Linked DNA regions of Homo sapiens: region 1 is linked to region 2. Evidence: fine-mapped expression QTL. A gene starts in region 2. The other region holds a variant in brackets. All regions are shown on one strand. Distances are between the middles of the regions.

Region 1 (3,010 bases), 45 kb before region 2:
AGAAAGTTGCATAAAATAAACTGTGGAAAAGCTTCAAGTTTAGAGATTCCTAAACCCTGCGTGGCACCTGAGAAGACGGGGTCCTTCCAGCATACAGCGGCATGCTCGGACCGCCCATTGCAAGGAGGCTCAGGAACAGCCGAGTGTGGTGCAGAGGAAGGGACCCTGGGCATACAGTCACTTGTCCTGCAGTGTCCTTGACTCTGGGCAGGAGTGGTCTTCGACCACTAGCACTGGAGTTAAAAACAGAGACATGGCTGGGTGCAGTGGCTCATGCCTGTAATCTCAGCACTTTGGGAGGCCAAGGTGGGTGTATCATGAGGTCAGGAGTTCGAGACCAGCCTGGCCAACATGGCAAAACCCTATCTTTACTGAAAATACAAAAATTTGCTGGGCGTGGTGGTAGGCACCCGTAATCCCAGCTACTCAGGAGGCTGAGGCAAGAGAATCAGGAGATGGAGGTTGCAGTGAGCCGAGATCATGCCATTGCACTCCAGCCTGGGTGACAGAGCGAGACTCTATCTCAAAGAAAATAAAAAGAAAAGAAAAGAAAAAAAAAAACAGAGATGCCCAGCCCCACCCCAGATCTAGTGAATTATAATCTCTGGGCATGGACCCCAGGAACTCTTGGGTCTGATGTTTAAAAAGCCCCCAAGGTGATTTGAATGCACAACTAATACATCATATATTAGTTTTAGGCCCAAGGGACGGTAGTTCCTAATATCAGTTCCAGGCTGGAGGAAACACTGTGAACAGTACCTTTCACAGACTCATGTGGTGCTGATCACGATTGTTATTTGTGTTGGTAGTCGTGCTCACTGTTGATTCTAATATCATTTTTGTTGTTGTCATTGGTTTTAGAGACATGGTCTCACTGCTGCCCAGGCTGGAGTACAGTGGTGATCATAGCTTACTGCAGCCTCAAACTCCCTGGGCACAAGGGATCCTCCTGCCTCAGCCTCCCGAGCAGCTGGGACTGCAGTCTCACACCACTGCAAGTCTTGTGCCATGGCTGATTCTAATAGCCGACATTGGTAGAGTGGTGCCTCTAGTTTACAGAGCACCCTGACATGGATTACCTGACTTAAGCTGGGCAGCTGGCTTTATTTTTTATCCTCATTTATGGGATGAGGAGACAGAATTACAGGTTAGGTCACCTGCTCAAGACAGCAGGACCCGCCACCCCAGTCCTTTAAGTCTGTCTCAAGTCTCTTTCCATCACCCAGTCTCTAGGGCTGAAAATCCTCCTTCTTGTTGGAGGTTGAGCTGAGGAGGGCTGGGCAGAGAGCAGGAGGAATTAGAAAGGGCATCTTCCCAACACAGCAGTCAAGGAGTCTGTGCGACCCACGCTCAGCTGCAGAGAGAAGCTGCTGTAATCCGTGGTGTCGACAATGGAGGGGCTGGGGCTGCTCAAACACACCCGCCTCCAACCTCATGCTTTGCAAGTGGCACAAACGGGGATTACCCAGCAGCCGTGATCCAGCATGC[G/A]GTAATCCTCACCCAGCCCTGCCTGCCCTCCCACCCGCTGCTGCTGCTCCTGGGAGCAACAGGCTCCTGGATGCTGGGATGGAGACGCCCAACAGGATTTCTGGAGCAAAGGAACCTGAAGCTGCCCTTGGCTTCTCCCACCAGGAGTCAACCGCACTGCCCTGAGATGACTCCTGGTCCTCCAGCCTCTGTTTACATGCAGGGCGGGAGAGGCTGACCTCACTCACTTCTGGCTCTTTGGGATGGGATGGGGTGGGGTGGGGGTGAGGAGGTGGTGTAAACACAGCTGTGGGTGGGCCAGACTGGCTGTCACTCACGTCAGGCTTCCACATGCATGGACACTGCCAGGGCTCCCACATGACCTTCCAATGGTGGTGCAAAGCACCCAGGGTCTGCATCCAGCAGCTTCAGTCAAGGCCCCTGCTCTATTGCTCTGGCGAGTCTCAATGACTTGATTCAAGAGGCAGCATGGGCCCGGGCTTAAAAGAGCCGGGCCGGTTCCTCGCTGTGTGACCCTAAGCAAACAATATCACTTCTCTGCTTCCTCATCTTTTTTTAATTTAAATTTTATTTTCTTTTAATTGAGACAGAGTCTCACTTTGTTGTCCAGGCTGGAGTGCAGTAGCGTGATCTCGGCTCACTGCAACCTCTGCCTCCCAGGTTCAAGTGATTCTCCTGCCTCAGTCTCCAGAGTAGCTGAGATTACAGGTGCCCACCACCACACCCAGCTATGCTTCTCATCTTTAAAAGAGGGGTGATATTAATGGGGTTTACCTCCTAGGGCTGACATGAAGATTAGATTCCCTAAAGTATACAAAGCACCAGACACGTGCTAAGTATCTATAAATATCAGCCATCACCATCACCACCACCAGCCTGTTTCCCAGTCTGTTCAATGAGAATCATTCTAATCTCTTCTGCCTGCCTCACAGGGGTGTTGTGAGTTAAGGTCAACAAAACTGTAAACTCTGAGAGGACAGAGCCTGTGTCTGCCTTGGTCCTCTGCTGCATCCCCAGGATTCAGAATAGTATCTGGTAGTAAGGGTGCTCAGCAAATATCTATGAATGAATGAATGGGGTGTGGGGGTGAATCTTGTGACTCTGAAGGTGCTCCATAGGGCTGAGCTGCTTCTGTTTCTAATGAGTAGTCGGTGAGGTCCAACGATAGGATTTGCTGTGTTGGGAGGTGGTGAGTTCCCCATTGCTGAAGGCAATTAAAGAAACTGGAGGTCACTTAGCACAGATGTCAAGGATGGGACTCATATAGCAGGTTCAGGTCGAACTGAATGACACTGGAGAATCCTTTCCAACTCAGAGTGAATTATAGGCTAGCTCACCCCATACCAAATCCCCATGGCCTTCAACAGCATCAGGCATGTCTTCCCCAGTCAGCTCACGCTCAAGGGAATGTACAACCAACCCTCACATCCTCACACTGCAGTCACACAGTCCACCCAGCTGGGCAGTCTCAAAACATGCCCATGCCCCCACACACTCCATTTTCACATGCAGTCACTCACCC
Region 2 (2,500 bases):
GGCCTCCAGCTCCCCAATTCTGGGACCCAGCTGGGCAGCTGGAAAGGGTGGAGTCTGGCCCTTGAATGGACGGCCAAGCCCGAGGCCACCGCCAGACTGTGAGCTCAGTACCCAGACAGATCTCTCTGAAGAGTGTGGGTTCACACCCTTGATGTTATTGGTTCTTTAACAGCCTGTCACAACCCAGGACCCATATTATCACCCTCACAGCACACAAGAAGAAACTGAGGCCCAAAGTGGACCCCTCCCCGACCAAGGTCATCCAGGGGATCTGGGATAGAGCTGGGATTGAACTCAGGTCTCCCTGGTCCCTTGACCCTGGCACTTTCCACTGCCCCATCATCTTTCCTCTTAACTCTTTCCTCCCTACAACTAGGAAGCCCCTGAAGTCTCTCCAATAAACGTGGGCCCCTATGACAAGGCCCAACAATCATCCTCCAATATGGGGGCTGCCAAGATGCCCACCTTTGCTTCCCCTGTCACATTCCCTCCCCACATCTTCAAGCCAACCACCTGGACCTGCCCTGTCTCTGGTAGCGGCTCCCGGGACTGGGCAGCGCCTTCTGCACAGAGTGGCTTTGGAGTGGAGCCAGCGCTCCCGGCATGGGCGGCAGAGGCTGGCAGGTGGGGTGGGGTTTCCCCTCCGCTGGCCTCCTCGGGGCGGCAGGCCCATCCCCACACCCACTGCTCAGCACCAGCCCCTGCCAGCGACGCTTCCCGCCGCGCACTCCCTGGAGGGACACCGCTAGCCGCCCAGCCCAGCTCTCCAGGGGTTAAAAATGCAGCATCCCAAACAAGGGTTAAAAATGCAGTCCCGGGGTTGGGCCGGGCGCGGAGGGATGTTGGCCAAACCGCCGGGGCTGCCAGAGCGGCATCCTCCCCCTGGCCTCCGCAGTCCTTGGGGGCCGGAGTGACTCGAGCGGATCCGGCAGCAAGAGAGGCGCGCGCCGCACCTTCCCGGCACCGGCGCCCCCTCCCCACACCCACACCCCCGCGCCCCCCGCAGCCTAGCCCGGGGGATGCAGGCGCCGGCGGGTCCCGGGCGCGGCGGGCGAGCGGCGCTTACCTTTGTGACAGTCATGCAGAAACTCCGCGGCGGAGCGGGGGCGCGGGCGCGGCGTGCGGGGGCGGCGGCGGCGGCCCGGGGCGGCGGCGGAAGGGGGTCCGGCAGCTCCCGGCTCGCTCCCCGCGCCCCGCCGGCGGCTCGGCCGAGCCTGGGGGCTGCGCTCCGGGCGGGCAGCGCGCAGGGACCGCTCGTCGGCGCTCGCCCGCCGCTCGTCGCTGATGTCAGCCCCGAATGTGCATTTATAATAGATGAGCCTCCTTCGCCGCAGGAAGGCGAGGCAGGAAGAAAGGGAGAGAGGGAGAGGGCCCGGGCTGGGGGGCGGGGGGAGGAAGAGGGGCCGGGAACTCGCTACAAAGGAGGAGGCGGAGGGAGGAGGAGGAGGAAGCGCAGCCCGCCAGCGGCCGTGCCCCGAGCCTCCCGCTCGATCGCCGGCCGCCGGGCACCGCTGCTCCCGGAGTCCGGACGGGCGCCCGGGTCCGCGGCCTTAACCCCTTCGGGCCTGCGGACGCCACGCGGCTGGGCGAGGCTGGCTCCCGGCACCTGCCGGCTGGGAGAACGGGCGGCGCCCCGGGCTCTCGGGTGTCCCGCTGGCCCGGGGACGCTGGTGAAGTCACAGGCTGGACGGCCGAGGCGCTGCGCGGGCAAAGAAGGCGGTCGGGTTCGCCCCCTGGAGGCTCGCAAAGTCGGCCCGTGGGCCGTGAGTGTGGCGCGGCGGGCTGGGAGGGGCGTGGCAGCCGCAAGCCCGGGAGCCCTGCCCGCACCCCCACCTCGCGCTGGCCCGGGGCACAGGGTGGCCAGACGGATTTGTGTAAGCACTCTTTCGAATCTAATTCCCGCCGCGATGACTTGCCCGAAGGCCGCCTTAGTGAGTTTTGCAGAGGAGGAAACTGACGATCAGAGTGGGACGGACGTGGGAAGTGACTTAGACCACAGCACAGGACCTGCCTGCCCGAGCCGTTCCTCCCGCTCTTTCCACTCGGCCGCTAGCTCCCTAAGGAACCTCTTGTTATAGAAGCTGCCCTGCCCTAGGACTGTCTACACTACCACTGAGTGCCGCTCTACTGGTGGAGTGATAACACAGGTGCGTCCTGTGTGTTGATCCAATCCTGACTCGGGGCACAGTGTGTCCTGGAGCTGCTGCGGAGATTTGAGGGACAGTCACCTGAAGGTGACCTCGCAAGTCTTGAGAAAGGAGTCTCCCTCCCAAGCACCTGAGCAGAACCGGTTTCCGCAGATACAGAACCGCGGAGAGGGTGGAGGGGAGGAGTTAGCAGAGGTGGAAGCAGAGGGGTTCTCCAAGCAGGACAGCCTGGCAAGCCCGGAAGTGCTGGCTTCCTGCTCCACGGTAATTACCGGTGCAATTCACCTGGACAGCGAAGGCAACGTCATATATGAGCACCTGCTCTGTGGAAAGTGCTGGGGGAACAGAGAGGA

Alleles and levels. Positions count from the first base shown, and alleles are read on the strand shown. Sizes are in standard deviations (SD) of each study's normalised expression.
As copies of G replace A in region 1, the expression in fibroblasts of the gene that starts at base 1,351 in region 2 goes up (small effect, 0.20 SD a copy in GTEx).

The links. PIP is the estimated chance that this variant, and not a neighbour inherited with it, causes the effect.
Region 1: its variant is the best candidate, but not a certain one, in a credible set for the expression of CORO2B in fibroblasts (GTEx, PIP 0.80).

Annotation. Positions count from the first base shown.
Region 1 is chr15:68,622,226-68,625,235 of GRCh38, reverse strand. The region is part of intron 1 of CORO2B (coronin 2B); the gene reads right to left. Among named protein-coding and RNA genes, the nearest start is that of CORO2B, 45 kb to the right of the region's middle. The variant G/A (reference allele first, on the strand shown) is at 1,489.
Region 2 is chr15:68,577,844-68,580,343 of GRCh38, reverse strand. CORO2B (coronin 2B) reads right to left here and starts at 1,351. Exons shown (of 12, transcript NM_006091.5): 1 at 1,067-1,351. The coding sequence starts at 1,081. RefSeq lists an enhancer at 296-1,163.